7 linked regions of the Homo sapiens genome follow. The protein of the gene in region 3 purifies or fractionates together with the protein of the main gene of each other region. This does not show direct contact. Each region holds a gene or a part of one and is shown on either strand. Other genes may lie near its edges.

Region 1 (3,500 bases), on a different chromosome or scaffold from region 3:
TGTCCTCGCCTGACTCCCCTGCCTCAGTGGCAGCAGCCCCCAGCCCAGGACCTGCACAGAGGAGGCGTCTGTCAGCGACCCAACCTGAGCCCCAGAGAGGAGCACTGGGTACCACACAGCCCCAAGGCAAGTTACTGGCTGGGCTGGGGCTGGGGCTTCTGCCTCCTACCAAGGCTCCATCAGCCTCTACCTGCCATCTGCTATGTCTACTTCATCACCTCTCCTGGTGAATTCAGACTTCTCTCCATGCACTGGCCCCAGCTTTATGGTTTTTCCTGGTGTCCAGCCTCTGTCCCTCCAGCAGCAGCTTAAGGAAGGCGCATTCACTGAGCACCTCCTGTGTGTGCCAGGCACTGCGTTCACCATAACAGCAGTAACCATCCTTTATTGGGTGCTGACCACATGTGTCAGGCACCTTTCACTCAGAATTTCACAGTCATTTCACTCCTCACAATAATCCTGTTCCCATATCATGCTCACTTTTTAAAATGATATCACTGAGATTTAGTAAGCATTTTCTTCTGGCCAGCCGTTGTACTAAGCATTTCACTTGCATTTCCTCACTGATCTTCCCCAACCCCCTTCCAGGTAGGTACTCACTATCCCTATTTCACAGCTCTGGAAAGGTCCCTGGAGAGGATGTGGAAAGATCCCCAGTAGGTAGCAGAGCCAGGATTCGACTGAAGACCGTGATTCAAGTGAGGCTCTTAACCCTGGGCCAGCTGTCTGCCATTTGGACTGCAAAACCCAGAGGCCAGATACCCCTAAGAGGCCAGCTGTTGCACCTCTGCAAGGCGGGGTTCCACCTCCTCTCGGGTCCCGGCACCTAGGCCAGACTCATCGAATGAATGAAAGACTCTGTTGTATCCCCTGTACCCACCATGGCTATCACAAGCCACAGTCCCATGAAGACAGAGAACCCAAGGCCACTTTCTCAGAGGAGGACGGTGATCTGTCTCTGGGCCTCTAGGGTGGGATTCATCCTTCTCAGTCAGATTTCAGGAGCGATGGTGGTTGCGTTTTTGGGTGTCAGTGCTATTGCTATAACTTAATGATGCAAGGTAGGGAAGTCCCACAGACACTGAACATGCAGTGATGCTGCTGAGTGTGTTGATTAGCACCAAAGCAACTGTGGAACTCAGAGATAATAACATTTTTAATTGTATTAGGGTTTGGGGAATCAGTTTTATTGCAAGTCGTTTCCATTAATAGGTATTGTGATGAGATGCTCCTGGAAACCATCCTTAACTCACTGTGTGCAGGGCCACCTCCCACGATGGCCACAAGGGGGAGCTGCGCGCCGGGGGCAGCCGGGAGAAGGGGCCTGAGTGCCGAGGGCGGGGTTCTCAGGGGTTCGGAGGCGCAGCTGGGCCTCCCAGAGACTGCGCAGCCTCTCTGACACCAGCGTGCTGTCTGTCCGAGAAAGCGCACACCCCCTTACCCCCTGAGATGGGCAGAAGGTGTTCGTTTCTGGTTCTGCCCCTTCAAAGCTCCGTGACCCAGCCAGCTGTTCCTCTCCCCGAACCTCGCTTCCCGTGTGTGAGATGAGGATGCTCGTGCCTCCGCGGAACCAACCTGGGGACCACGCGAAGCGCCCCCACAGGCCCAGGCACGCCCATGCCTCTTCCCGCCCCGAGCCCCCATGTCACAGCCCTTCCAGCTCCTCACCTGCCTCGCTCAGGTCTCTTGGGGGAACATTTGTTTCCAGGCTGATGGGCTGGAATGAAAAGCCTCCAAAGGGAAACTTCATCCCAGGCGAGACTCAGCATTCCCCGCCGGCGAGTGAAGGTCCCTGGGTAGGGAGCGGAGATGCTGGCCACCGCCCCACCCTCATCGTCTAGAAATGCCACTGTCCCTGCTCGGCATCAGAGGGCCCTGGCCGCTGCTGCCTCTGGGAAAGGTTGCCTCGGGAGAAAGGGGGTGAAGGCCCTGCCAGCAGCTAGAACGGCTCCAGGGAGGCAGGGCGGCCGGCAGTGCTGTGGGAGAAGGACAGGCCTTTGGAGGGAGATGGGAGACGAGTCTGGAGAAACTAGGGGGACGGAGGTGGCGGCTTTGACTGACCCTTCCAGAGACTGGGATCTGCGGGAGGCTTTGGAGGAGAGCCACAACCTGGGCTTCGGGGAGGCACGCCTGGGGGTGTGGAGGGGGGTGGGTGGAGTGAGATCCACGGCTAGGGGCGAGGGGCTGGGGGCCGAGGAGCCGAAAACCTCTGCCGAGCTTCACGTGGTTAAAGATTTCAGGTCTTACCTGTCACCAGAGATCTCTGTCCCGTAGAGGTGCCACCTCATCCTCCATGAGAGCTGTGCTTTGCTTTCTTCTGGAGGCTGCAAGGAGGATGGCCCCCATCACGGCGGACCTAGATGCTGGGAGTCCGGGAGAGGGCAGGCCGTGGAGATGGGGCAGGTGGCGATGTGTTTCACCACCCACTCCCGCCTGAAGTGCCACTGTGAGCCCAGCCCAGGGTGCCAGGCTGGGCTGCACTCCAGGCTCCTGCAGCAGACCCAGTTCCTCAGCCTCCTTCCCCTGAGGCCTGGGCATGGCCTGGACAAGTGGGTTTCCTCCTCTGCTGTGCCATGCTGAGGTGGCAGGGAGGCTGGGCGGGACCTTGGATGTGACTAACCTGCCAGGCCCAGGGAGGTCCCCCTTACTGAATGTCCTCCCTCCTCACAGTTCCCTCCTCCTCCTGTCCCCATCCTCCCTTCCATTTCTCGCTGTCCCTTCCTCGCTGGGTCTGCCGGCCTCCTGCTGCCTCCTCCTGCCTCAGTCTCTCCCTGCCGTGTCTATCTGCCGGCCTCTAGTTTCCTGGCAGCCCATGCCTGTCTCTTTCCTCCCTCCCCTCTGCCCTGCTCCATCGGCCTCTCCTGCCCTCTCTGTCTCTCCCTCTGGCTCCTCTCTCAGACACACTGGGAACCCTCCCACCCGCTCTGAGCCTCTGTCCGGTGACTCTTCCCCCTCCAGATCGGGCTGGTGGTCATCCTGGCTTCCACGGTGGTGGCCATGTCGGCCGTGGCCCAGCTGTGGGAGGACGAGTGGGAGGTGCTGCTGATCTCCCTGCAGGTGAGTGAGGAGGGTCCCCCAGGACCCTCACAACAAGAGCCTTTCTGTCACTTCCCTTTCTCCAGACCAAGGCCCAAAGAAGGGCAGGGAGGCGCCCAGGGTCACAGAGCAGGTCAGAACTAGGGAGGACACCAGGGTCCTGAGGCTCCCAGTGTCCCCAGTTGGCAGATGGAGACAGGGTTGCCTGCCTCATAGGTAGAAGTAGGAGGCTGGTGACACAGGGTCTGGGCAGAGCTGGGCGTTACTGGTCTCCCTTCCCTCTCCCTGCAAACAGGGCACAGCGCCATTCCTGCATGTGGGGGCTGTGGCAGCAGTCACCATGCTCTCCTGGATCGTGGCAGGACAGTTCGCCCGCGCAGAGCGGACCTGTGAGTAGAACTGTGAAGGGCCTGCCCCTCCAATCCCTGCAGGTGCCAAGACCAGCTGGTGCTGCCCCGACCTGG
Region 2 (3,500 bases), on a different chromosome or scaffold from region 3:
CGCATCTAATAAGTCGAATGGTCAAGGATTTGGCAAAATCTCCACTTCCAATCACACCTACAGTGACCTTCCTTGCATCTTTGATACCATTTATGCCATTAGGTAAAAAAGTTTCACTAAGGCTCTTAGGGCTTCCCATCATAGAGATTGATTCCATGATACGGACACTTCCAAGATCACCAAGAATATCCTAGGGGAGAGAAAATAAAATGGTCATCAGTTACCTATTACTGAACATTAAAACACTTCTAGACATTGTAATGTCCTGTCTTTCTAGAGGTAAAATATTTCACCACACTTTAACATACAGCACAGTAAGACACAATTTGTAAGCTAAAAAAGGATCACTATTCTGGTTTCTCTTCATAAATCTTTTGGCTTTTAAAAAAGCATCTCAATAGGAAAATTAACTGTCACAAAGGTGAGGTGCTAAAGTGGGGCTTCTCAAATTTTAATGTGCACACAGATCACTTCGGAATCTCGTTAAAATGTAGATTCTGATTGAGTAGTTCTGGAGGGAGGCTCAACATTCTGCATTTCTAATGAAAGCAATACCAATGCTGGTCTGAGACCCCTCTTTGAGCAGCAAGGCACTAGTGATGCAGGACAGGAAAGCCCCCAAATGGGGGCTTAGCCCAGGAGACTACTTGGCTTTGCATGGGAAAGAATTCAAGGGCGAGCTGGTGGTGTTAAACAGCAACGTTTATTGAAGCAACAGTTTACAGCAACAGCAGAGGTACTGCTCCTTGCAGAGCAGGCCTACCCCGTAGGCAGTGTGCCTAGAGTAGCAGCTCAGTGGCAGCTCTGCAGTCATATTTAAACCTACTTGATTTATATGCAAATTAAGGGGTGATTTATGCAGAAATTTCTAGGATGAGGGTGGTAATTTCTGGGTTGTTGGGCTGTTGCCATGGAAAGGGGTGGTAACTTCTAGGTGTTGCCATGGCAATAGTGAACTGACATGGCACACTGATGGGCATGTCTTATGGGGAGGTGCTTCTGCCCTGACCTCAGTTTGGTCCAGTGTCTGAACCTTGCCTCTGGATTCAAGTTCTGCCTCCTACCTCACTAGAGCACATGAAAAAAGGGACTGAGGTTTTCACTCAGAACTTTTTGGAAAAACACACTTGTAACAAGTATGATTACCCAGCTTTTGAGCAGATCAGAGGCAGCAAATCACAAATGCTGCTGGAGGCAGAGAGGACTGTGATACTAAGTGATGGCTCACAAGACAAGAGAAGAAAGAAAAACCATTTTTTAAAAAGCCATTTAAACCAAAACTGTCTAAAGTCATTTGGGGTAGAGGTTATAAAGTTCCCTATATACTTCAGTAGCTAGTGACTTTATCATTAAATGAGAGCTAGACAAATTAGCTAACAATGAATCCTGGCACTTAAATAATATCTTAAGAAAAATAGGCATCAAAATATAACAAAAGAGTAAATACCATGGACTTCTATCATTCACCCTACATCTTACAATGTATCATTGAGAAAGATAGCTTACCTATGGAAAAAGGATTAGTAACATGTTTATGATCTTAAATTATATAATATGTATGAAATCTTTTTCTTCCCCTTTGTAAAGAACATGGCTGTGCTTTGGTCAAGGACAGGCAGAGGTAAACATCCAGAGTGAGTGAGTTCAGAGCGCAAGCATATAACTTCACTTGTTACTTGTTATCATAGCCATGTAGACATAACAGAAGCTCACCACCATCGCTATGACATAGGGAAAACTCATCACTTGGCTCTAAGCCACTATTGTCTGTAAAAGGTATAATTGCCCTGTGGACACTGTAGAGGCACTCTTGTGCTCAGAGACAGAGAGTCAGAGCTGTCTGTCTTTGCAGACAGATGGGGGAGTCAGGACCCAGCTTGGCTTGCCCATGCCCAGAGAGAGAAATAGTTAAGCTGCTGACCCTGAAGGCAAGGGAGCTGTGTGTGTGGGAGCCACCAGACTAAGCAGCTGAGACAGGATGGACAGTGTGAGAAAGTTGTTGATCAGAGCTGCTGTTGAATAAAATCATCTTTCACCTGCCTACAGCCCTTCAAGTATTCTTTCTGCTCATCCACCCACGCCCTTTGGACCGCAACATGACACCCTTTCATTTGTTGGCTGCATAAACTATGATGCAGTTATTCTTCCTGGAAAAATCTCTCAAATTATTTTTTAGTTGAGAGACTAGCATCTGAAATGTTCATATTTGGAATAATTTGCTCAAGAATACAAATCAGGTTGCCATGAATTAGTGTCGAAATTGGGTCTGAAAGAAAAATACTCTTCCATTCTACCCTCATTGCACAATTTCTTCTATGCTCATAGCAGATGTGGACCATTTCAGAGGATTTAATGGACTTTACAGGCACAGGTGGAATGTTTCAAAAAAAAGTTGGGGTTTTTACTAAATGAAATTTGAAATGACTACAGCCAGGAAAATTCAACTTTTTACCCTAGAAATGAGTCACATCCAGTAACTCCAAATACATCAGTATGTTAAACTTTAGAAAGACAATAATTATAGTAATATTACTTAATGCTTATATAGGACATAATGTATTTCAGCTCTCTTGTGGTTTTTATGTATTAACTGATTGAATCCCCACAACCACCCTAAGAGACAGGTGCTAATACTGTCATACCCACTTTGTAGATGAGGAAACTGAGACCTGCAGAAGATAATTAATTTATCCAAGGACATAAAGACAGAAAATAGGGAAGCCAGGTAGTTGTCCAGCTAAGACATGTGTTATTTAGGTGCATGTAAGGAGTTTAGGAAAGGGTGTTTTTGGGGGGTTATAAGTATCAAGGTGTAACAATTACAGTTGTACTCAAAGTAGTATATTATTCCTTTTTCTTTGGTCATTTCATTGCTCCTCAGAGTTACCTAGGAGCACCCGATCCTGGGAAAGAAGAACATTTACTATTTTTAAATCAATTACATGTTTCATTTCACACCTTTCAAGATAGACCACTCCCTTGGTGTGGTCCATGCACCCAGAAAGGCAGGCAGGAGTCAGAGGTACCAGGGTAGGAAAAAAACCTGTCAATATCCATTTGGAGATGTCACTAGCTATGCTGGGAATCAGGAGTGGTTAAAAAAACCAGAAGTAATGAAATCCATGCTCACTTCATTCGAAAGTTAATGGTAATCATGAGCATTATCTAAGGGTGAAAAAGGTTGCTAGATTCACACAAGGGAATCCAAGTTTCCTATATCCCAGCCTGGAGTTCTTCTGAGTATATACTGCAGCATCTCCCAAAATATAAGAATTGCAAAATCTTTAAATCTAACACTCATGATGATCAAGACTTTTTCAAACAGAAACAAAAACAAAACAACATTAATTATCTGCTTATTTTACAAAGCAAGTTCAAATCCCTTCTGTAAATCAGAATGTGAACAGGTAAAAATTTTATTTTGCTGGGAGTTCCTTTATAGGTGACTGGTCATTCTCTTGCTGTTTTTAGAATTCACTCTTTGTCTTTTACTTTTGACA
Region 3 (3,500 bases):
GAAAGTTTTAGAGTATTTAAGACATTCTAAATCTAAAAAATGCATAGTAACCATTTCCAGAAAACTTTTATTCATGTTACCTTTAAGTGACAGGACAAACTGCTGAAAACTGACTTTAAAGTAGCAAAGAATTACCTTCTTATGATTAGAAACCCGTCTAAGATTGTCCTCTTCAATATGAGGGAGCTGCAGAAGGGGAGACTTAAATTGCTGAAGTCCCTGAACGGCCATCTGAGAAAGCTTCATGCAGTTTTCTAGGGATGCCAAAGTTGGAGCACGAAACTCCCTTTCTTAGAAAGAACAGGAAAAAAAGAAACAGGGCTGGACTTTTTACATGTTCAGGAGTATACAATTCATCACAAAAACAAAATTCACACTAAATCCATAACACCTCAAATTTGAGGATCATAGTAAGATTTTCCTTTAAAAGTTACCAGAGAAGACACTAAAAATATACAAACTCGATCTAATGAACATTTTCCAGCAACAACCATTGATTTAAAAGAAAAATTATTTGCCTCACCTCAAATAATAGTAAATTATCAGACATTATCAGTATCACCAACATATGACACCATGACAAGAACCAACATCACCCGTAACAACAAACCATAACCACTATCCTTTTTTAAGGGCATTCCTTTCCATTACTGACCAGAAATTCCCTCATTCTTTTCCTTCCATACCAAAAAAAAAAAAATGGCTAGGTGCCTGTAGGCATGTGGCTCATGACTGTAATCCCAGGGCTTTGGGAAGCTGAAGTGGGAGGATTGCTTAAAGCCAGGAGTTGGAAACCAGACCAGTCTGGGCGACAAAGTGAGATCCCACCTCTACACAAAATGTAAAGTTAGCTCCGTGCTGTGGTATGCACCTGTAGTTCCAGCTACTCGGAGAGCTAAGGTAGAAGGACTGCTTGAGCCCAGGAGTTTGAGGCTGCAGTGAGCTATGATTACCCTACTGGACTCCAGCCCTGGTAGATGCTGTCTATAATTAATTAATAAAAATTACATGACATATGAATCACTTTTATATCAGTTAAAGATTTCAAATTCACTGTTAGAAAAAATGACCTAACTCAAAAATTATTCAAAGAAAGAGAAATTTTAAATCTTTGCAAACAATTGAACAATAAAATAATTAAATTATCATGCCTGTAATCACAGCACTTTGGGAGGCTGAGGCAGGTGGATCACAAGGTCAGGAGTTTGAGACCAGCCTGACCAACCTGATGAAACCCCGTCTCTACTAAAAATACAAAAATTAGCCGGGCGTGGTGGCATGCGCCTGTAATGCCAGCTACTCAGGAGGCTGAGGCAGGAGAATCACTTGACCCTGGGAGGCGGAGGTTGCAGTGAGCCAAGATCGCGCCACTGCACTCCAGCCTAGGCGACAGAGTGAGACTCTGTCTCCAAAAAAAAAAAAAACAAGAATTAAAATCAAAAACACAGTGACCAGGGCTTTGGGAGGCTGAGGCAGGTGGATCACGAGGTCAGGAGATGGAGACCATCCTGGCCAACATGGTAAAACCCTGTCTCTACCAAAAATACAAAAATTAGCCAGGTGTGGTGGTACGCGCCTGTAATCCCAGCTGCTCAGGAGGCTGAGGCAGGAGAATCGCTTGAACCCAGGAGGCAGAGGTTGCAGAGAGCCAAGATTTTGTCACTGCACTCCAGCCTGGGCGACAAAGCAAGACTCCATCTCAAAAAAAAAAAAGAACAAAAAAAACCCAGTGAGCTGTGATATAGACTTTAAATAATAGAAAATATAGGAAAGAAATATGAAAAGACATGAGTAAAATTGAAGAAGCTCACTGAACTGGCCGACAGAAGTCTGAGTACCCATAAATCCTAAAATATGAAGTACAATCTGCATATGCTTGCAAGAAAAAGTATAACATAATTAACTATATTTCCTCCTCACCTTCACGGTTCCGGGCCATTACTATTAGTTGGCAGATTACATTAACCATTTCTTGAAGTAGGGCAGGACACTTTTTTAGCATGAATTGCTGATCTGCAAAACAATAAAAAACCTGAAACAGATCATTTTAATTTTACAGTTAAAGCATCTTTATCACTGTGGCCCAAAACTAATATTAAAGTTATGCCACAAATATTTCACATGATCTCAGAATTTTACAGATTGAATGGAAGAGTTTCTCCTCAGTATCACTATGTCAAAAATCAGCCATAAAACCCTAGCTCAGATTAGACGTTTCAAAGACAAATTTTTAATATCATAATGTTAGGCTTAATAAACCAACTCCCAGCTGGGCATGGTGGCTCACGCCTATAATCCCAGCACTTTGGGAGGCTGAGGCAGGCAGATCAACTAAATATGTCAAAATAAATATGTCAGCTAAATACAGGGGGAGAGATAAGAGACGTAGAAGAGAAGAAGAGGGCAACTTACAGAAAGAGAAAGACTCTTTCATTTATACTGCATATAATAGTTAACTATTAAGACCACATTAACCTATGGATTTGGTACTCAACAATGATTTGTTTCCTGCTTCTTACAGGTAAGTAAAAATGGAGATGCTTATGTATCTGTACAGAACATTAGCAACAGAATTACTAGTTAATTGAGTATTTCAAAGCAACTCCAATGATATTGCCTAAATAGTGCTCCTTCATTCCACCATAAGCATCCTGTCCTATCACCAATTACTAAGCGTCACATGGCCTTGTTTTCGGAAGCATTTAACTGCATTACTGCCTTAAAGGAGGTGGGGGATGGTAGGATATCATTCAAAAAGAACATTTATTTCCTAGAGGTAGTAACTGTCTTTTAAAACTTTAACTGAAATAATGTCGGTGAAAAAGAGATAATTAATGACATCCCTGGAAACACTGTTGCCTCCATCAACTACTTTTCTTTTAAGCAGAATACATGGCTTCAAGTACTTATGAAGCTTTAAATAACTATAAAACAGACATTATTGGTAACCACTGTCGGAGGAAGCTTGTAGATGGGGAGGTGAGAGGTGTTGGTTGTTGTGAAATCCATTTTGCTCCCTCCAAAAACTTACAAAGTCCTTTAAAAAAATTATTAGGAACTTTTGTATGATCTGCAATTAACTAAACATTTCTTATACAGAGCATTCTCTCACCTTGAAACACTAAATTTTAACACTTGCCAAAACGTCTGACTTACTTAGATCTTCAAACCATTTGTGAAGTAATTATGTAGCATATACATTTCTTTTTTAAAAAGTCCTTGAGCAATTATTTGGCCAAAAAAGAACAGCAACAAAACACACCGCACCACCATGCTATGGTTTGGGTCTGTGTCCCCACCCAAATCTCATGTTGAATGGTAATCCCCAATGCTGGAGGTGGGGCCTGGTGGAAGGTGATTGGATCAGGGGGGTGGAGTTCTCCCTTTGGTGCTGTTCTCGAGATACACTTCTCACAAGACCTGGTTGTTTAAAAACGTGTGGCATCTCCCCCATCTCTCTCTTCCTCCTGCTCTGGCCATGTGAAGACACTTGCTCTGCC
Region 4 (3,500 bases), on a different chromosome or scaffold from region 3:
TAAAAAAAAAAAAGATTTACAAAAATGGATTAAAAAAACACTAAAAATTTTATAACAGTGGTATCTCTGGTAAAGGGGTTTGGCCCAATTTATACTTAAATAAATATTCCACTTTTCCATCATATATACTTTTTCATAATTCAAAATAAGAAAAGTTATTACTAAATAGGAAGAGCAAGAAAAATGGAGTGGAAAAGATAACTTTTGGTCAGAAACACAAGATATCCCAAATTGTGACATTAGCTGGAGCAACCCTGGCTGACTCACTGTTCTAAGTGGCTAGGCCTTTTAGGTCTGTTCTTCCTAAAAATTCTAATACCTACTTTCCCCTCAACTTTCTACTTTGGTAATTTTCAATCCTACCAAAAAACTGAAAGGACAGTAAAATGAATACACATATATAATCTTTACCTAATTTCACCAACGTTAGTATTTGTAGCGTTAGCCTTCTCCTTTCCACCCTCTGAAACAAAACAACAGGCTCTCTTTTACACATCACATTCAATTCTCTAGACAATGGCTTGGCCATGCTCCAGTTATATATGCAGTGGTGTCACAGGTGAGCTTTCCCCATTTCCCAAACGCCTCTATTATGGATCATGTGTTTTTTTTTTTTTTTTTTTCTTTTGAGACAGAGTCTTGCTCTGTTGCCCTGGCTAGAGTGTAGTGGCATGATCTTGGCTCACTGCAGCCTATGCCTCCCGGGTTGAAGTGATTCTCCCGCCTCAGCCCCCCACTGCTCTGGGCACGCCTTTGAATTCCTAATCTTCAAATCAAAATTATCCCTCCTGTACTTTTATACCACACACACACTGTTCCTTGGTTTAAGTACATTCATTATTCATTCTCTGAGTTTCCGTCGTGTCCATTTCTGAACCACATCCTTCCATTTTCTCTGAAGACATAGTACAGAAATTTAAAGTTATTTTGCAGCTCTTTTTTGCAGTTATTTCTATAGTCATCTTCTAAATTGACTCTAGAAATGCCTAATCATTTCAAATTTTCACTCCTTCAGCCTAATTTCCATTTTGAATATAGCTATTATCTCTCTCATTTATGATTTACTCTTCACACTAGATTCATCTCACGTTATAGCACTAGCCAGGCAAGTCACACTATTAGGTTAATATTAACCTCATGTAGAGTGGGTATGATTTTGGGAAAAACAACTTGCAAAATCAGGGACTCGGAGGTAACAAAAAGGTGGAATATAACCTGAATATAATGGGTCAGAAATTCTGCCATAAGCCAATTTCTTTTGCTTTCTTTCCTTAGCTACAGTTTTCTCTAATCTCCATACTCTGCAGGGGGAGAGGAGAATCTCTTGCTTGGATCTATTCAAACTATGAAATATATAGTTAAAAAATGACTCTTTATGAAGTTGCCCCTCTTGACAAGGTACCCAAACTACCGTTCTTTTTAAATTTTTATTTATTTATTTATTTTTAGAGAGACGATCTCCTTCTATCGCCCAGCCTGGAGTGCCACGGTGTGTGATCACAGCCCAATGCAGCCTCAAACTCCTGGGCTCAAGCAATCTTTCCGCCTCCCAGTAGCTAGGACTATAGGTGTGTGCCACTACGCCCAGATAATTTTTAAATTTTTTTTTGTAGAGAAAGGGTCTTGCTATGTTGCCCAGGCTGGTCTCATTCTTACTACGTAGTGTTTAGCGCATATTTTTGGTTTGAGACAAGTTTAGTCATCATAACAATTAAAGTAGTTTCTTTCAAATGCTTGTTTATATTAGGAAAACTTAAAAATTCTAAGTAACTTTAAGTAGTAGATACTGAACCTTGAAACAAAAACATACATATAATAGTGGAGGAAAAGGGCAAGAACAGAATAAAGATAAAATTTGAATGGATCGTTTCTAATACCTTCAGCTATTTCAGAAAGAATAGCCTGAGTGATACAAAAGAGATGTCTATAGGGAAGAGACATGAGAAGAAATTTCATAACCCAGCCAGGATTACCTTATATCCCAGGAATAATGAGCTACAGAGTTTCTCTGAACTTTTAGAAAAATGGATTATTGGTATATAGTCGGATCTGCAGCTTTTCCTTTCATAGATACTGGCAGGGTATTTATGAATTTTTCAGAATTCCAAATTTACATGCAAGTTAAAGATTTTCAAGCACTTTTATGATAATTTAAACTAATCCATACTGAAACAGCTGCTGAATAAAAAAATATAAGATGAAACTTTGTGTCCTGATTAATCAAAATGCTGGAACCAGTTGCATTCTTGTGCAACTTCTTCACAGTATACTTACCGCCATTCTTTGCTTTTCTCCACCACTGAGTACGTCCATCCAATCCTGAACACTGTCCCAGCCTCCTTCACGTTCAAGGATATGACCCAACTGGACATTGTCTAAGTATTCCTTCAGTACCTTTCAGCAAAATGATTAAAGATGAAATTAAACTTAATATAAGCCAACATTCTTAATAGTGGTTTATTTTTTAAACTGGAATCACTATAATTCTATTGTCTGTACCACTTAAAAGATACATTTCAGAAAAGAATGTGGCACAAGGTAGCCCTGAACCTTTCAGCTCCTAGTATCTACACCAAACTTGACAAAATATGTCTAGTAGCTTAAAGAGAATAACACTATTGTACACAGTAAAAGGATGATGGCAATGAGAAAACAAACAATGGTGTAAAGGTTAAGATTAAACTCTTTTTAAGCCAAGGGATTAACATCTTACCTCAGCTTAGAAAATCACAATTTACAGCTTTGGAAGGCTTTACAGCTTAAGATAAACTACCTGGCATTTAAAATACTTAATTGATTAAAATAAATAATCTGGAGTATTTTCAGTGGATCTAGGATATAAACATTCCCTTACTAGGTCAGAAATTCCCTTCCTTTTCTGATCTTCTCGTCCATCTGGATATATCACTTGATCTCGAAGTGTTCCAAGGGTCATGTAAGGTCTCTGACAGTAGTAGAGCAAAAGTCAATTAGAAGCAACATGAAAAAATAAATAAACAAAAAGATCTTTAGATCAAAGATAACTCAAGCTAGGTCTTACCTGAGGAACATAAAATAATTTTCCTCTTTCAGGTTTAGTTAGACGTCCTCCAAAAAGAGGCCATAACTATTAAAGAGAGAGAAGGGAGAAGAACAATTGTAAAATTTACAAAGTGGTAGACAGTATGGCAAAATAAGACTGCAAAATTTTGAGGCCAACTTGTACTTACTTCACCAAGAACACGGAAAAGTGAACTCTTTCCGCAGCCATTTGGACCACAAATTAGAACATTAGCCCCAGATCGAACCTGAAAAAAAAAAAAAAATCAGTCTGTGAAGTAATTAAATCAAATTAACATATACTTAATCAACATTTCCTTAGACTCAAATATTAATAGCTCCTGGCTAATTATAAGCCTTCTATTTGTCTGTAAATGTAGCATTAGGTAGAGCAGTGAAGAGGTATTGTGAAGGGACCTTTTACTTTGTTTACTTCCAATTTTTACCATTACTTTTTTTTC
Region 5 (3,500 bases), on a different chromosome or scaffold from region 3:
GAACGAGTCCATGCAATACAGTTTATAGCAAATGTATAGTTACAACATTTACAAATATTGTACTGAAGAATCCAGTGAAAATAATCTATTCACAATATAACAGTAATTTCAAAGCATTGATTCTCAGTCTTTTTAAAATTCACAAATTAGTAAAATTAAAAGAAATAAAATTCGGAGACTGACCAAATCACCAATTTTTTTATTTTACCAAATAAAGACCTTTAAAAAGAAATACTATTATCCACTTTCATTATCTTTTCATTTTAAAAATGACATTTTGGCACTAAAAGAATAAGAATTTCCTTTCCGATTTTAAAAATTAATACATTTACCCTTATGAAGGACTCACTTCTTTCATTGTACTTTTTCTTATTGCTATAGGCCAGGAAAAACATCTTGCATTTGGGAATGACTGATCCAGAGCATGCTATCTGTAATGCAACTTTCCTATTAATACTTCTGTGTTATCTATACTTAAGTGAAACTTGAAGTGTATTTTAATATAATAATCACTGTAATATAATATGAGAGTAATGTTACATAAAGAGTAGTTAGCTTCTTTTAGATCTTTCAGATCTTACACACTCAACTTCCCCTGAAATTATAGGCTCTTGCCCATAATTTTTACATTTACTAGGGATTTCTGTATCTAGAAAGATCAAGAATGAGAATCTGGTCAGTTTACACTAATTAGGATTATGATATTGAAAACAGTCAAATTAAGGCTAATGAAATTGAGGAAATATTTGCATAAAGAATATGTCCTTTAAAAAATTGTTTTGGTTGTTTTTTGAAAGATTTATTTTGATAACTACTCTCTGCCTTTTGTTTCCCCCTTTGGTTCTACAGAGACCTCATGATTCTATCTACTTTTGCCTTTAGCAACATGATGAGACTGATTATGTACATAACTTAGAGAAAATGAAAATAAACTGAAATGCACTGAACTAAAAGTACAACCAGGAAAAAACTGAAGTTGTGGAACTTTTTACCATATGCTTAAGTTTAGAAATTTTTCTCTCAACATACATATACAGAAACAAGCTATAATAAAATAAAACCTGTATTGCAGACCACCAGCATTCAATTTCTTTTACAAAAATTGTTTCCTTAAGCATATTTGTAAACACGGATTGATGATCTCTGGTTAAAAGCTTAGAAAGACTTGTGATTAAGATCTATTTTTGTGAGGTTTGTTGGAACTTTGCTCAGATTTTTTTTTTAAGAAAAGAATAAGTAAGTATGCCATAACAGAAAGAAGGAGTTCCAAATCTTGAAAATTTATTCAAATTTTGACCCCAATGTATCATTTCTTTAAAAAAGTCACTATAGCAAAGTGCTTAAGAGTGCAGACACTAGAGCCAAACTTCCTGGGTTCAAAATCCTGACTCTCCTACCTCCTAGCTGGGTTACCTTGAACAAGTTAATTGACATTTGTGCCTGAGTAAACAGTAGTAGAAGAACATAGACAATAATTTTGAGTCTTGAATCATTGAGAAAAATTAATGAGGAAGATTGTTTTGGATAACGATACATTGTTACTAATAAAAACTATTTGGTAAACATTTGTATGATATAAGTCTGTCAAATATTCTTCCCCTTTAATCAGCGTGACCAATTAAGGCACATAGTTTAGGCCAGGCGCAGTGGCTCACACCTGTAATTCCAGCACTTTGGGAGGCTGAAGTGGGCCAATAACTTGAGCCCAGGAGTTTGGGGGCAACCTGGGCAGCATAGTAAGACTCCATCTCTATTAATAAAAATAAATTTTTAAAAAATAAAACACAATTTGGAGACATTTATAGACCTAAAACTATAATATCTATATCTGGCTAGTATCTAATACATGTGATGCTGTAGAATCCTGATTATCCTTCTGGCATCTTGGTTAGAAAACATTTCTGTAATAGAATGTTTATATTGACCTTTGGCAACATAGAAATAGATAATAGTCCAATGGTAATGCCTGTGTATTTTACTTAATATTATTGATTTTGTTCATCTTTATTGTTAGCCCTTACAGAAAAGATATGGTAGCCCAGGCATTCTAAAAATACAGAATTGTTCCATTCTTCAACACTTTAGCTCTTAGTCCTCATTGATTCTTTTGGAAGATGTGATTGTTTTATATTCAGGTAGCCACCCAGAAAAGAATATCCACATAGGTCTACGCTCCGTTATCCAGAATTCTGGGGGTCAGGAGTGTTTTTAGAATGTTTCAGATTTTAGAAAAGCAATACAGTATATATACTGTATATTATATAATCACTCCAAGCACATGTTTTTGCAACAAAAAATATGAATAGTCACTCTAAGCACTATAAATAGGCCCATGTCAGTTCAGGTCACATTTTACCATCAAAATTGTTTTGGTGCCAAGCTTAGTCTGAGTTTTCAGAGCTTTTTGGCTGTCAGAATTACAGAAAGGGATTATGGACCTATTAATATACCTTGTGTATAACATCTGTGGTAGCTGTGAACTTCTGTTGCCCCTGTGTTCTAGTTCTTGTTATTTTGAACTGGTCAGTTTCATTTTGTGATATTTTTCTGCCATCTCTAGTTCAGTTTCCCAAGTTAACCTAAGTAGATATCAGTAAGATGAATCTGAGAAGTGTATTGGTTGTTTTCTACCATTTTATATGTAATTTCTGTATAATGGGTCCTTTTTTCTTTTTAATTTCCATTTTAAATTGGGATATATTCTCACATGAAGAAAATTTTCCAACAGACTGATTTGAAAACATTTATGAAGAAGGGACATGGATAATGATGTGGGTTTTTGTACTTGGCATGTCTTATACTCCCATCTTTCTTTCTCAGTTACCAAGGAACTCCTCATTTCCTCTAGGCCAGAAATGTTTCCTTCTGAATAGTCTGTATTTAAAAGAAAATTTTTTAAAATTCATAACCACTAGGTTATTTTGTGTATATAGTACAGTATATAAATTAGGTGAAAGAAATCCCTTTTAACTTAAAAGAATTTAAATTCAGGACGCTTATTTAGCTAATGTGTACCAACTAGTATGATACACATTCATAATTAGCTTTAGGTAACCTTATCAGGAAATGAGTTAACTAGCTCCAAAACTCTAGCAGTCTGTGTAATTTTAATACAGTTTTCACAAAATGCTGACAAATAACTTCTGGCTATCTAGGCAAATTAGATTGAGTGAAAATTACATCAAATAAATCTGTCTTGGTTTGCCTTTTGCTTGTTGTTGGGAAATTGTATTTTCAATTTGAATCTGCTCCAAGACAGAAGTAAGACTCAGATGACCAAGGTTCCAATTCCAAGCTCTAAGACTTTATATTCTACTTTTTTTTATCTGTTGTTTTAAATATTACAAACTCTAATGGGAATACCATAAATGTAGACTGTTTTGAATGATTTCTCTATTTGTGTTTCTTAATTCAAGCTATATCAAGAAGGTCATTTGCTTGGTAAATTGTGAAATATGGTATGAGAGAGACAAGCTTCATTAAAACGTTCCATCTTCATT
Region 6 (3,500 bases), on a different chromosome or scaffold from region 3:
TTTAGAAAATGATACCTGTCCAATTATAAAATTTAAAAATTATCCTGGTCAACAGGGTGAAAGGAAAATTAATTAATTAATTTTAAAATTATGTAGAAGAATTTTATAATGGCAATACAAGCTGAAATAGTCTTCTATTTCAAAGATAAACAAATTCAGTTTATTCATAAAATCACATTAAATGTTTCCCTTTTTTTTAGTTTGCTTATCTGAAATTAAGCAATAGTGTCAGACTTACGTGGTTCCAATTACCTTTTCCACTACTGTGCAGTTTTCACCCTGTGTTGCCTATTCTCTTAAATATTAAGGATATGTACAGATTCTTAAAAAATACTTTGTGGGCCAAAACTATTGGTGTTCATTCTAGAATTACTATTTTAAATTTGTTTTCCCAGCTTCTATGTTCCTGATTTATTAAGCATTTCTCCTTAACCCCATATTTTGCCAGCTCATTTTTCAGCCTATCTTAACAGTATTTTGGGCTTCTTCTGAGGAAATTAGAAATTGCTCAATTTACTCATTTATAACTGCTCTAGTTTGGAAGTTTCTACCTGAGTGGGAAAGACTTAAGAAATCCTTGTAATAGTTCTCCAAAATTGATCTCAAATATTTTACTCTCCTATCAGACTTTTTCTGTCTTGCTTGTCAGACTTAATGTTGTCATAATTGATAGGTCATTTGAGGGCAAGTAATAACAGTTGTCAGAGGAAGAAGACTACATGAAAAGTATAATAATGTGTTAAGCCTCAATTTTTTATTAATGTGTGTCAATGTTTTCTGCTAACTTTAAGGCAATGTGTTTCAAAGTGTAGACCTGTGACCAATTAGAATAATTGAAGTGTTTGTTAAAAATGAAAATTCTCCTGGGCCCTGTGCTGTGGCCTGAGAATTAACATACTTCTCAAGTGAGTTTTATTCACACCAAAGTTTGAGAAACTTTGATTTAAGATTTCTATCATTAGATACTACAATAAGAAGTAGAAAATAATTTTTGATTTTATTAACTGAAAAGTACAAATAGGTCATTTTATTTTATTTTTTTATTTTATTTCATTTATTTTTTTTGAGATGGAGTCTCGCTCTGTTGCCCAGGCTGGAGTGCAGTGGGGCAATCTTGGCTCGCTGCAACCTCCTCCTCCTGGGGTTCAAGCAATTTCACTGCCTCAGCCTCCCGAGTAGCTGGGACTACAGGCTTGCGCCACCATGCCCAGCTAATTTTTTGTGTTTTTAGTAGAGACGGCGTTTCACCGTTAGCCAAGATGGTCTCGATCTCCTCACCTTGCGATCTGCCCGCCTCAGCCTCCCAAAGTGCTGGGATTACAGGTGTGAGCCACCACGCCCAGTCTTTATTATTTTTTATTTTTTCAAGTTTATTAAGAAAGTAAAGGAATAAAAGAATGGCTACTCCATAGGCAGAGCAGCCGAAATATGTCTTTTTAACGTGAATCACTTACTCTTTGAAGATGGTTTAGAAATCCAGAAGACCAGCCGGGCGTAGTGGCTCACGCCTGTAATCCCAGCACTTTGGGAGGCTGAGGCGGGTGGATCACCTGAGGTCAGGAGTTCAAGACCAGCCTGACCAACATGGAAAACCCTGTCTCTGCTAAAAATACAAAATTAGCCGGGTTTGGTGGCGCATGCCTGTAATCCCAGCTACTTGGGAGGCTGAGGCAGGAGAATCGCTTGAACCTGGGAGGTTGAGGTTGCAGTGAGCCAAGATCGTGCCGCTGCACTCCAGCCTGGTAACAGAGCAAGACTCTGTCAAAAAGAAAAAAAAAGAAATCCAGAAGACCTAGTTTCTATTCCTCACTCTGATTTGATATGTGAAGTTAGGTCACTTAGACATTTAATTTTTCTAGGCTTTGCTTTCTTGCATCTAAAAAACAAGGTGATTGGAATGTTATTAATCTATCAAATATAAACATTTCTTTTCTTCCCTTTAGTCCGCTTCCGGACAACAACAGGGCTTGATTCTGCAGTAGATCCTGTCCAGATGAAAAATGTCACCTTTGAACATGTTAAAGGGGTAAGTTAAGAAGATTGCCTTGCCTTCTTCATACATCCTCTAATTGATACTCTATATGAGGTCGATATTTGATTCTACAGTGTATTCTAGAATAGGTAAAATTGTGTCCAAAAGTATTAGAAACATTAGTATTTTGGGATAAATAATAATAGCCAAGGATCAAATCTTGCTTTATGGCAGGGGATAGTATAATTTATGAAGGAGCAGCCTGGTGTAGTGGAGTGAATGTGGACTTCAGAGTCAAGCTGACTAATGTTTGAAATTCATTTTTATACTTATTAGCTATGAGACCTTGAAGAAATTACTTTAGATCCTGACAGATAATGTATGTGCTTGACACATAGTAGATATTTAATAAATGGTCCTTCTTTACCTGTACCTCTTACTGATCTTTGTAACTCCACTATCTAAAACATGTTAGACAATGTATATTTCTTGAATGAATAGAATGGATAAATGCTAGTTTATAGTTGATTAATTTGTTAAATATTTAATAGTATTAAGTGCTAGGCCCTATTTTAGCTGCTGGGATAGAATAAATAATCTCTGCATTCTTAGAGTTTAAACTCTAAAAGCAGTAATTGGACACTGATATGTGATGTAAGAAAAAGTAGAGTATGTTAAAAGAATAAAAGTGTATGGAGGAAAAAGTAGAGCAGGGTAAAGAGGATTGGGAGTTTTGAGAGAAGGCTTACAGTTTTAAATGGAGTGTTCAAGGTGTGATTGATGGAGAAGGTGACATTTGAGATAAAATCTGAAGGAGAAGATGGAATAAACTGCATTTATCTGAGAAAGGAACGTTTCTGACCAAAGGAACAGTTTGAGCAAAGGCTCTCAAGTAATAGGGTGTCTGACTTGTTCATTTTTGAAAGTAGAACTAATAGGATTTCTTATTGGAACGTAGGGTGTAAGAGAAAAGAGGAGTCAAAAAGAGCCACAAGATTTTTGGTCTCAGCAATTAGAAGGATAGAATTGACATTTACTGAGATTTTTGTTTTTGTTTTTGAGACGGAGTTTCGCTATTGTTGCCCAAGCTGGCGTGCAATGGCGTGATCTCGGCTCAGTGCAACCTCCACCTCCCAGATTCAAGCGATTCTCCTGCCTCAGCCTCCAGAGTAGCTGGGATTACAGGCACGAGCCACCACGCCCAGCTAATTTTTTGTGTTTTTAGTAGAAACAGGGTTTTACCATGTTAGCCAGGCTGGTCTTGAACTCCTGACCTCAGGTGATCCACGCAGATCAAAGTGCTGGGATTACAGGCGTGAGCCACGGTGCCCGGCCTTTAGTGAGGTTTTAAAAGGCTGTGAGTGGAGCAGATCTGGGGGACAAAGGTTAGAAATTTAGTTTTAGGTATGTTAAGTGTGAGAGATACGAATGAAAGTGTTGAGTAACTTGGATATACCACTTTGGAGGTATGGGAGAGGTCTGAGCTAGAATTAAAAATAGGAGATTATATTTATATGTATGTTAAGTC
Region 7 (3,500 bases), on a different chromosome or scaffold from region 3:
ACCACATTGGTCAAGCTAGTCTCGAACTCCTGACCTCAAGTGATCCGCCTGCCTCTGCCTCCCAAAGTGCTGGGATTACAGTCCTGAGCCACCATGCCTGGTGGCATAATAATCTTTAACTGACTTTTTCATCAACATGACTTTTGATACATTTGGCTTGATACATTTGATACGTGTATCAACATGACTTTTGAGACTGATTCACCTTGATACATTTGGCTGGAATTCATTAATTTTACTTGTTATGTTGTACTCATTCTGTGACTATACTAAATATTATTTTTCCTTTTGTTGATAGACATTTAGGTTGCTTTCATTTTGTTTTGTTTTGTTTTTCATTTTTACAAACAATGCTATCATCAACAACCTCAGCCATATCTTTTGACTGCACATTTGTGAGTGAGCTAGGAGTCAATTCTTGGGATTGTGGAGCATGAACATCTTCTGCTTGTGTAATATTTCCAAATTATTCTCCAGAATGGTTGTATAGAAAAATTTCCTTTTTCATATAATCTGATAAATGCGGTAACCTGAAAATTCTCCCAATGTGCAACACCTAGAAATGTTGAATAAAACATAAAAGGCAATCTTTTAAATGCATAAAGAAATCTCAAGAAAGCAAGAAAATACCTAAGGCTTAGGAGAGATATATATTTTTAAATGCTTAGAGGAAGTTGAAATTCGGAGTTATATCTACCAATGCGCATTTCCTCAACAAAGGTGTGGGCCCAGGGAGATAACAGGCTATATAATGTTTTCAGGGAGCTCCTGTCCATTCACTGGGTCAACAGTTAAAGCTAAAATTTCAGACCATGGTATAAGAAAAAAAAGTCACTGAAATGACTTTGGCAAAGTTCAGAGTCAGGTCAGCTACCCCAGGCTGATCTTGCCATCATCCTGACACCTGTGGAACCTGGGCCCTCCTCTGATTTTCAATTTGGATTGCTCTATTCCTTTCTTCTTTCTTGAGGGCAATCAGTTCAGTCTCCTTGGTTACCTACTTCTGGCGCCTGGCTTGCTCCACTGCCGGCTCTGGTCTGCCAGCTTACCCCCTCATGGAGGCTTTGTTGCTTCCTCCTGCAGCTCTTGGAAGCTGACCTCTGATGCTTGCCACTTCCCATTCAAGGCTGGGGATTAAGCCTGAGGTCCAATCATGGGCTCCCTTAAGCACACCCCTGTCTCAGTTTCTTCCAAATCCTAGTTTGTGATAACAAGGCTGGGGGTATATTCGAAAAGAATTGGGGCTTAGAGCACTTTATAGTAGCTTGGTGACAGGATCAGATAATTTGGGGTTCTGTTAAGTAGGGTGAGCCATCCTCGGTGTACCAGGTTCTGCTCTCAGGGCCCCCACGATTTCCATCAAGAATGGGAGGCAAGGCCAGGTGCGGTGGCTCATGCCTGTAATCCCAACACACTGGGAAGCCGAGGTGAGTGGATCACCTGAAGTCAGGAGTTCAAGACCAGCCTGGCCAACATAGTGAAACCCTGTCTGTACTAAAAATACAAAAATCAGCCAGGTGTGGTGGCATGCGCCTATAATCCCAGCTACTGGGGAGGGTGAGGCAGGAGAATCGGCTTGAACCCAGGAAGTGGAGGTTGCAGTGAGCCGAGATCACACCACTGTGCTCCAGCCTGGGCAGCAGAGCGAGGCTCCATCTCAAAAAAAAAAAAAAAAAAAAAGAATGTGAGGCAACAGATATGACAAGCGGCAAGATTATGTCTACACAAACTTTAGCTAAAAGTTACCAAATAGATAATAAGATGTTTAAAATAATGACATAAAAGAAGGAATAAATAACACAAGGGAAAAAAACCCAAAGCACAATGTGTATAAAAAAAGAACACATAGGCCAGGTGAGGTGGCTCATGCCTGTAATCTTAGCACTTTGGGAGGCCGAGGAGGGTGGATCTCCTGCGGTCGCGAGTTTGAGACCAGCCTGACCAACATGGAGAAACCCCATCTCTACTAAAAATACAAAATTAGCCGGGTGTGCTGGCACATGCCTGTAATCCCAGCTACTCGGGAGGCTGAGGCAGGAGAATCGCTTGAACCCACAAGGCAGAGGTTGCGGTGAGCCAAGATCGTGCCATTGCACTCCAGCCTGGGCAACGAGAGTGAAACTCTGTCTCAAAAAGAAAAAAAAAAAACAAATTTTCTAGAAATGCCAAATAATGATGACTAAAATTAAAAGCCCAATGGATGGCTTGACCGTCAAGATAGACAAGGTGATTGCACTAATCTACCCTCGGACCAGTAGTGCAGAGTTCCTGTCTCTCCATATCTTTGCCAACATTTGAGAGTGGTACAAACTACATACGAATAGGCAAGCTGCAGTTTGCATTGCTTCATTACAGAATTGAGCCCATCCCAGTCAATATCTTCCCTCTTATGGTTTCCTGGGATTCCAAATTTCAGACACAGAAGGACTTTAAAGCTCATCCTCTCTGTCTGTTTTTTGGGGGAGTCCCTTAGAGTATTTGGTCGTAATGGCCAGTTCTCAGTAGGGCTCTCCCACAGTGACTGCCTGACATAAGGCTGTTCTTCTCCTCGCTGGTTCCCACACCCTGAAGCCTCTTACCCAGTGACTTCAACATTCTGTTTTTCCTGCTTCTAGTCTTAAATCCCCAGATTCTCTTGTGCTCACTCTGCACCTCTTTCAGCCCCTCCCTTCCTCCTCAGCAGTCTGAGTTTTAACCCAACTCTCATCATTCCTCTTCCTCTCAGCCAGTCTCTGACCCAGTGCAAACAAATGCAGCTCTATAATTGACATGCAGCCACCGCAAAGCCTAGCCAAGAGTTCTGTGCTGCACCTACAGCTGGAAAGGTTCAACAACCACAGTTTTCTAAACCCAAAACTAAACGAGTAGCCTGGCAGAGCTTGGAAACCCAGAGGTAGTATGGAGTATGGTTAGAGAATGGACTCCTGAGGCAGAATCTTACTTAGATTCACTAATTAGCTGTGTGACCTTGGGCAAGTCACTTAGCCTCTCTGTGCCTCAGTTTTCTCAAATGTAAAAACAGGGATAATAGTGCCCACCTTATAAGGTTGTTCTGAGAATTAAATGAGTTAGTGAATGTAGCATTTAGAATAGTGCCTGACCTATAATGAGTTCTATATATGTTAGCTACTATTGTTATTAATACTTGAAATTGGGACTGTCCCAGGAAACAGCAGATGTCAGCCGTGTTCATTAAAATAAGATATGAGATACCACAGTGTCAGAATGTGTAGCCTTACTTACATAGCTAGTATTTTCTACTATTCTTTCTCTCCTTGTCAAGATTCATCCAATACTTATATAATTCTTATTCTTCTGAACCAGCCCAGAAAATCTCCCATTCCTCTCTGTTTGGCCACCAAAACAGTCACAGCATCCTTGTTTCTGCCTCATGGCCTTCAGCTCTCCCTTCTGCAACAATTCTGCTTTTAGCAACTAACAAATCCCATGCTTTTGGTATTTAGGAAATTGCTTTTGGTTTTCTGATAGTATTAAGCTGA

What was found.
Region 1: the proteins of SEC63 (region 3) and GDPD5 purify together in Homo sapiens (co-immunoprecipitation; one large-scale study listed by IntAct). This does not show direct contact.
Region 2: the proteins of SEC63 (region 3) and STEAP2 fractionate together in Homo sapiens (co-fractionation; one large-scale study listed by BioGRID). This does not show direct contact.
Region 4: the proteins of SEC63 (region 3) and ABCD3 purify together in Homo sapiens (affinity purification with mass spectrometry, with the first as the bait; one large-scale study listed by BioGRID). This does not show direct contact.
Region 5: the proteins of SEC63 (region 3) and EXOC1 purify together in Homo sapiens (co-immunoprecipitation; one large-scale study listed by IntAct). This does not show direct contact.
Region 6: the proteins of SEC63 (region 3) and YME1L1 purify together in Homo sapiens (affinity purification with mass spectrometry, with the first as the bait; one large-scale study listed by BioGRID). This does not show direct contact.
Region 7: the proteins of SEC63 (region 3) and TMEM154 purify together in Homo sapiens (co-immunoprecipitation; one large-scale study listed by IntAct). This does not show direct contact.

What each region holds. Positions count from the first base shown.
Region 1 is NC_000011.10:75,449,442-75,452,941, reverse strand, and holds part of GDPD5 (glycerophosphodiester phosphodiesterase domain-containing protein 5), read left to right. Parts: coding exon of another isoform or gene 1-126; intron 127-610; exon of another isoform or gene 611-1,609; intron 1,610-1,708; exon of another isoform or gene 1,709-2,549; intron 2,550-2,958; coding exon 2,959-3,057; intron 3,058-3,331; coding exon 3,332-3,425; intron 3,426-3,500. UniProt on the Homo sapiens protein: Glycerophosphodiester phosphodiesterase that promotes neurite formation and drives spinal motor neuron differentiation.
Region 2 is NC_000007.14:90,221,740-90,225,239, reverse strand, and holds part of STEAP2 (metalloreductase STEAP2), read right to left. Parts: intron 191-3,500; 5' UTR 158-190; coding exon 1-157. UniProt on the Homo sapiens protein: Integral membrane protein that functions as a NADPH-dependent ferric-chelate reductase, using NADPH from one side of the membrane to reduce a Fe(3+) chelate that is bound on the other side of the membrane.
Region 3 is NC_000006.12:107,902,709-107,906,208, forward strand, and holds part of SEC63 (translocation protein SEC63 homolog), read right to left. Parts: intron 2,014-3,500; coding exon 1,921-2,013; intron 291-1,920; coding exon 136-290; intron 1-135. UniProt on the Homo sapiens protein: Mediates cotranslational and post-translational transport of certain precursor polypeptides across endoplasmic reticulum (ER). Proposed to play an auxiliary role in recognition of precursors with short and apolar signal peptides.
Region 4 is NC_000001.11:94,498,389-94,501,888, reverse strand, and holds part of ABCD3 (ATP-binding cassette sub-family D member 3), read right to left. Parts: intron 3,288-3,500; coding exon 3,210-3,287; intron 3,107-3,209; coding exon 3,041-3,106; intron 2,945-3,040; coding exon 2,855-2,944; intron 2,395-2,854; coding exon 2,275-2,394; intron 1-2,274. UniProt on the Homo sapiens protein: Broad substrate specificity ATP-dependent transporter of the ATP-binding cassette (ABC) family that catalyzes the transport of long-chain fatty acids (LCFA)-CoA, dicarboxylic acids-CoA, long-branched-chain fatty acids-CoA and bile acids from the cytosol to the peroxisome lumen for beta-oxydation.
Region 5 is NC_000004.12:55,874,148-55,877,647, forward strand, and holds part of EXOC1 (exocyst complex component 1), read left to right. Parts: intron 1-3,500.
Region 6 is NC_000010.11:27,130,385-27,133,884, reverse strand, and holds part of YME1L1 (ATP-dependent zinc metalloprotease YME1L1), read left to right. Parts: intron 1-1,943; coding exon 1,944-2,026; intron 2,027-3,500. UniProt on the Homo sapiens protein: ATP-dependent metalloprotease that catalyzes the degradation of folded and unfolded proteins with a suitable degron sequence in the mitochondrial intermembrane region.
Region 7 is NC_000004.12:152,673,498-152,676,997, forward strand, and holds part of TMEM154 (transmembrane protein 154 precursor), read right to left. Parts: intron 1-3,500.